Linked DNA regions of Homo sapiens: region 2 is linked to region 1. The links come from fine-mapping of genetic effects on gene expression. A gene starts in region 1. The other region holds a variant in brackets. All regions are shown on one strand. Distances are from middle to middle.

Region 1 (2,908 bases):
GCTTCAGGCTTACTATTGGAATAAGTTCATCTCTGTGGCTATTCAGGCAGTTCAAAGAATTCATTTTACACAACAGGCAAAACAAAAAAGGGAAGCCAAGATCCATTCACTCACAGTAACAGAGTTTTACAGCTGGATGGGACTGAGGGATTTAAAGAAGTCAAGGCAGATGTGTACAGGAGTGTATTTCTATATCTACTTAACTCACACACACTCCCCCAGCTTGATTCTACATCACCTTTCAGATCCTGGCATTTAAGATAATCTTCTCATATTACGGGGGAGGGCGGCGGGGGGAGGAGGTGAAAGAATAGTGTTGGCGGGGGGCAATCCGGACTGTCTTAAAGAGACAGCACACATCCTCTTATTAAGACAATAAATGAGAACGAAATTCACTAGTCAATACAATATTGAGCACCTACTGCCCATCTGAGCTCTATAAACTGACAGAAGAGAAGGGTGCTTCCCCACGTGTTCCCTGGTCCCGCATTTCGGCCTACAGGAACGGCGCTCTTTAAACTACTTACTAGACATGAACATTGCCACCGTGAGTCTGAGGCCAGCTTTCCCTCATCTTGTCTACTACGGAATCTTGTGAAATCCCAAAGATAACTTTAAAAATTATTTTAACATACATGTGAATTCACAATAACATAAATACACTCGCATCTCCTCCACACCGCTGAAAGAGGAGAAAGGTTCAAGTACAAAGGTGGGGAATGCTCGCACCGGCTTCTCCCTGTCCTGGGTGAAATCCATGTTGGGAAGAGCTTGATCTAGGTCACCCACCCGGGAGCTGAGACCACAGACGTCCCTGCCACCTTCGGCGGCGCAGCCTCGTCTAGATCTCACCGCCTCAACTTGCCAGGAAACTTAACGACCTGAAAGCACCAGACCGCCGAGCAAGCCATCGGAAGTTCCCTTTCGCACTCACCACCACAGAAAAACTGAGTTCAGTGAGACAGACCTTAGAGGAGCCAGGTCCTGGGATGAGACCTCCTGGTCCCCCAAGCACCTGCCATTGAGCTCCGCTCCGACCCTACGACCCCGAGAGAAACACCCGCCCGCGGGCAGAGCCGGCCGGGACCAGGAGCAGTGGGTGCGGGGCGACCCGCGGGACAACGACCCGGCAGTCCCCCGCCCTCAAGACCCAGGGACCTCGGCTCCGCCCGGTCCCGCCGCTCCCAGGCCCCGCCTCGACCCCCTCACCGAGCAGCAGCAACAGCAGTAGCAGCAGCAGGGGTCGCCGGGCGCTGCCGGGGGCCGCCATGGCGCGAGGCGGCCGGGTACGGTGCGGGGAGCGGGGGCGCGGGCGGCGGTTGGGCCGCGGACTGCCGGGCGCTGCGGTGGCGGGGCGCGGGCGCCAAGGGCTGGCGTTAGAGACAGCGGCGTTACCAGACGCAAGAGGCCCGGCCACTGCGACGCCGGCACGAAGAAGACACCGCGGCCGGCAGCGCTTGTCACGTGAGCTGCGCCGCGCCCGGGCGTCACGTGATCCCGCGGGTCTCGCGAGAGCGCGCGCGTCGAGCGCCGGCGGCTCGGCTCCCCGCAGGTGCGGCAGCTTCCAGCACCGCGCGCCCCCTCACGCGTGATGCAGGCCGACACGTGACCCGCAGCGGCACGTGACCCGCAGCGGCACGTGACCCTGGACCCACGTGACCCGGCCTGGTCCGGGGGACTGGGGCCGAGCCGAGGTCCTGAAACGGGAAGTGGGCTGGGTTCGCGGAAAAGGAAGAGGAAGAGTAGTGGCGGGAGAAAGTGAGGAAAGAGGAAGCCCGCGAGGGGAGAAAGGGCAGACGGATCGCGGACGCCCAGGCCTCCCTTCAGCCTGCGAGGCGTCCCAAACGCGGGCTCTTTATGGACAGGAGGGTGGTGTGGGTGGCAGCGCGGGTGACCGGCCGGGTGCGCGGCCAGGGATGGGCGAAGGGTTTGTCTTTTGGTGAGTGGGAAGCAAGTTCCTCACACAGGGAGGCCACTGTGCCCAAACTCTTGAGTGGTTTTAGGAAGGAAATAAGGGATCTGAAATGGGTCAGTGCGGCCTTCCGCTCGTTAATCGCGGGCTGAGGGAAGACGGCACCAGGCTGCCCAAGGTGAAGGTGAAGGTGCGATGGCGATACTCTTTGGCTTACAGAAAGTTCCTGTCGAGCACTTTGTTTTTTTTTTTGAGACGGAGTCTCGCTCTGTCGCCCAGGCTGGAGTGCAGTGGCGCGATCTCGGCTCGCTGTAACCTCCGCCTCCCGGGTTCAAGCGATTCTCTTGCCTCAGCCTCCCAAGTAGCTGGGATTACAGGCGTGCGCCACCACGCCCGGCTGATTTTGTATGTTGAGTAGAGACGGGGTTTCACCAGTTGGCCAGGCTGGTCTCGAACTCCTGACCTCAAGCAATCCACCCGCCTCGGCCTCCCAAAGTGCTGAGATTACAGCCCTGAGCCACGGCGCCTGGCTCCTGCATTTTAGAAGTCTGAAGATGCTCTGTTTTTTGGCTTGTCATCATATAGGATTTATGGCCTTTTGTTAAAATACTATTTAATTAAGGCCCCTACGCTACTGCTTTGTATAAAGCACCCGTCGCATAAGTACCTACATCTTAGAAAAAGATTTAATCTTACATTTCAAAAGGCATCATAGCAACGGGGACTGGATGTGCACCTAGTTAATAGAGACAGCACTCAGCCAGATAAAGACAGGACCAGGCACTCACTATCAGTCCTCACCAGAGGACTGTGACCTTAAAAAGGGCGGGATTTGACCAATTCAACACTGGCATTTTGATAGACCCCACCTTGCTGTCACTTGTGCTTAGCACCCTGCATCTGCTGCCTAAGGATCTGCTCACATCAAGGACTTCCTTGGAAGACAATGACTTCTGTCTGGATCAGGCTGGAATACACTCCTTGTTCCCGTCATTG
Region 2 (2,908 bases), 25 kb after region 1:
CCTCTGCCGGGGGAGCACACTGCGCGGGGATGTGGTTTCCCTGTTCTGTTCCCTGGGAGGAGCACGCTGCGCGGGGATGTGGTTTCCCCTGCTGTTTGGGAAACCTGCCCGCAGTTATTTCTCCTTTCCGTATGCTCAGATTCTCCCCTTTTCTCTCTTGCTTGCTCAGTTTGATGCTTGCTCAATTCTCATTACCCGAGAGCAGCTCTCCCTGGCCTCTGCCTTGCCTCCAGCTACATCTCGCCGCACCCACTACCCGTCGGGCCCAGCACACAAACTGAATGGCCCGAGATGCCACCGTGATGGTCTGTTTCTGATTCTCACCATACCTTAAAACTCCCTTCTTTTGTTCTGTCACACTCGTACTTCTCCCCATTCTTATCTTGCTGGTCTTTGTTCCTTCCACTGGCCCTGCTTCATTCACTCCTCAGTGTTTACTGAGCACTGTGCACCAGATGCTATAGACTTGGGGACAGGCTTGTGCCTAAAAACACGACTTCAGAAGCCTGACGAATGGGGGCCCAGATCACAACACACGTGCTTGAGCTTGAGACCTGTCTTAAAGAAAAAAAATTGACAACTCTCTGAGGCACTAGTTCAATTTTTTTCTTGACGGCATCTAGCGCTGTTGCCCAGGCTGGAGTGCAGTGGTGCCATCATGGCTCACTGCAGCCTTGACTTCCTGGGCTCAAGCAATCCTCCCACCTCTGCCTTCTGAGCAGCCAGGAGTATAGGCATGTGCCACCACACCTGGCTAATTTTTATATTTTTTTGTAGAGATGGGTTTTCACTATGTTGCCCAGGCTGGTCTTGAGCTCCTAGGCTCAAACAATCTGCCCACCTTGGCCTCCCAAAGGGCTGGGATTATAGGCTTGAGCCACCGCGCCCCACTGGTGTGTAATTTTAATCCTAACATCATTTGCCTGATGTGCAGGAAGTCAGTACACTGAGACACTGGGGATTGCAGCAGAGACGGAGCTTAACACCCAGAGGGGAACTGAACAAGAGACAGAGGAAGCCTTGAACGCGCCTCTCAGAGGAGTTTGGGGCTGGGGATTTTAAGGGTTTCGGAGTGGCCGAGGTGTGGGAGTTGCTGATGGGTTGAAGAGTGCAGGCTAAAATCATGGGATGGGGGGATGAAGAA[C/A]CTGCATTCTCATGCCGCCTCAGCGCCCTGTGGGAGCCTTTGACTGGTTGATGTCAGCTGTTCTGCTGGAATTGAGGATCTGAAAAACATATTAAGCAATGTTTAAAGCCTTATGGTTCTAACGTCAGTGGTCCTATCTATGAGAATAATGGGGGTGCAAATGATCAGTATCCAGGGCTACAAGACTTCCAGTTACAAGGAAGTGGGCCAAAGTGCAGCCTGATTCATGCTTAGTTATGACTCCATTTCTGCCCAGAACCCGGCGTGTAATTCCTGCTAACCCATTGAGGACAGTTTGAGGTTCAAGAAGATATTCTAGAAATAAAATAAAAACAATTTTTTATTAAAAAGAAAAATAAGAAATAATATAAAAACATAAAACAATCTTTTATTAAAAAGAAAACCAAGAAACAATAATCTGATAATAGAGGCCACCAAGAGAAAAGCTAACCAGAAACAAAGATGGACAGTGAACTATGAGTGGGGAGGGGTGAGGCCAGCCCTTCTTCTCATTAGACCTTCCAGTTGGTTTACTTAGAAAGATTAGTGCTAAGGAAAGTGACAGCAAAGAAGTTGAAGGGGAAGAGGCAATGTAGAATGTCAAAAAAGAACACTTCCTGGAACAGAAGTCCGGAGTCTTCCAGTCTGAAGGCTCAGTGGGTGGCTGGCAGAGGCCAAATGAAAGTGGACACACACCGAGACACTCTTGTGAGATACCAAAAGTCCAGGAACAGAAGATTCCAAAAGTGACATGAAAGAACTACAGGTTAGTTAACAAAATGGCATCAGACTTTAGAGCTAGAAAATAGAAGACTATGGCAGTGCAATCCCTTCAAAGTTCTGAGGGAAAGTGATTTTGAGCCTAGAGTTTTTATGTAGACCAACAATCAAACACAAGTGTAAAATAAAAACAGTCCAGCCAGGATTCAGGAAATTTGTCTCCCAGGCATTCTTTCTGAGAAGATCATTTAAGAATCTACCTAATGAGGCCCGGCACAGTGGCTCACGCCTATAATCAGCACTTTGGGAGGCCGAGGTGGGTGGATCACCTGAGGTCAGAAGTTCGAGACCAGCCTGGCTTTTTCTCTACTGAAAATACAAAAATTAGCTGGGCGTGGTGGCGTGTGCCTGTAATCCCAGCTACTCAGGAGGCTGAGGCAGGTTAGGAGTTTGAGACCAGCCTGGCTAAATGGCAACACCCCATGTCTACTGAAAATACAAAAATTAGCTGGGCGTGGTGGTGTACCTGTAATCCCAGTTACTTGGGAAGCTGAGGCAGGAGAATCGCTTGAACCCAAGAAGCAGAGATTGTAGTGAGCTGAGATCGTGCCACTGCACTCTCCAGCCTGGGCAACAGAGTGAGACTGTCTCAAAAAAAAAAAAAAAAAAAGAATCTACTTAATAAAACCAGAAGACAAGAAAAAGAGAAGACTGAGATCCAAGGAGTGGAACTACACAGGAATGCAGAGAAAATGGGTTCCAGGATCACAGCTATGCAGGGGCTCAAAAGCCAAATGATGTGGCCGGAAGTAGGGGTGCATCGAATTGTGCCTGGGAATGGCCAGGGCACTCTACTCTGGCCTGGGAAACACAGTGAGACCTCGTCTCTTAAAAAAAAAGAGGCAAATGATTCATTGTATTATTATTATTATTTGTATTTTTAGTAGAGATGGGGTTTAACTATGTTAGCCAGGATGGTCTCAATCTCCTGACCTCATGATCCGCCTGCCTCGGCCTCCCAAAGTGCTGGGATTACAGGCGTGA

Evidence for each region.
Region 2: its variant is fine-mapped to the expression of LAMP1 in lung (GTEx, PIP above 0.99). The same link has a PIP of 0.9 or more in T cells, blood mononuclear cells, macrophages, monocytes, monocytes after LPS and monocytes after Pam3CSK4.

Annotation. Positions count from the first base shown.
Region 1 is chr13:113,295,797-113,298,704 of GRCh38, reverse strand. LAMP1 (lysosomal associated membrane protein 1) reads right to left here and starts at 1,466. Exons shown (of 9, transcript NM_005561.4): 1 at 1,210-1,466. The coding sequence starts at 1,270. RefSeq lists an enhancer at 646-825 and a silencer at 1,056-1,335.
Region 2 is chr13:113,271,130-113,274,037 of GRCh38, reverse strand. No RefSeq gene overlaps it. Among named protein-coding and RNA genes, the nearest start is that of MIR8075, 9.7 kb to the right of the region's middle. RefSeq lists an enhancer at 1-56. The variant C/A (reference allele first, on the strand shown) is at 1,145.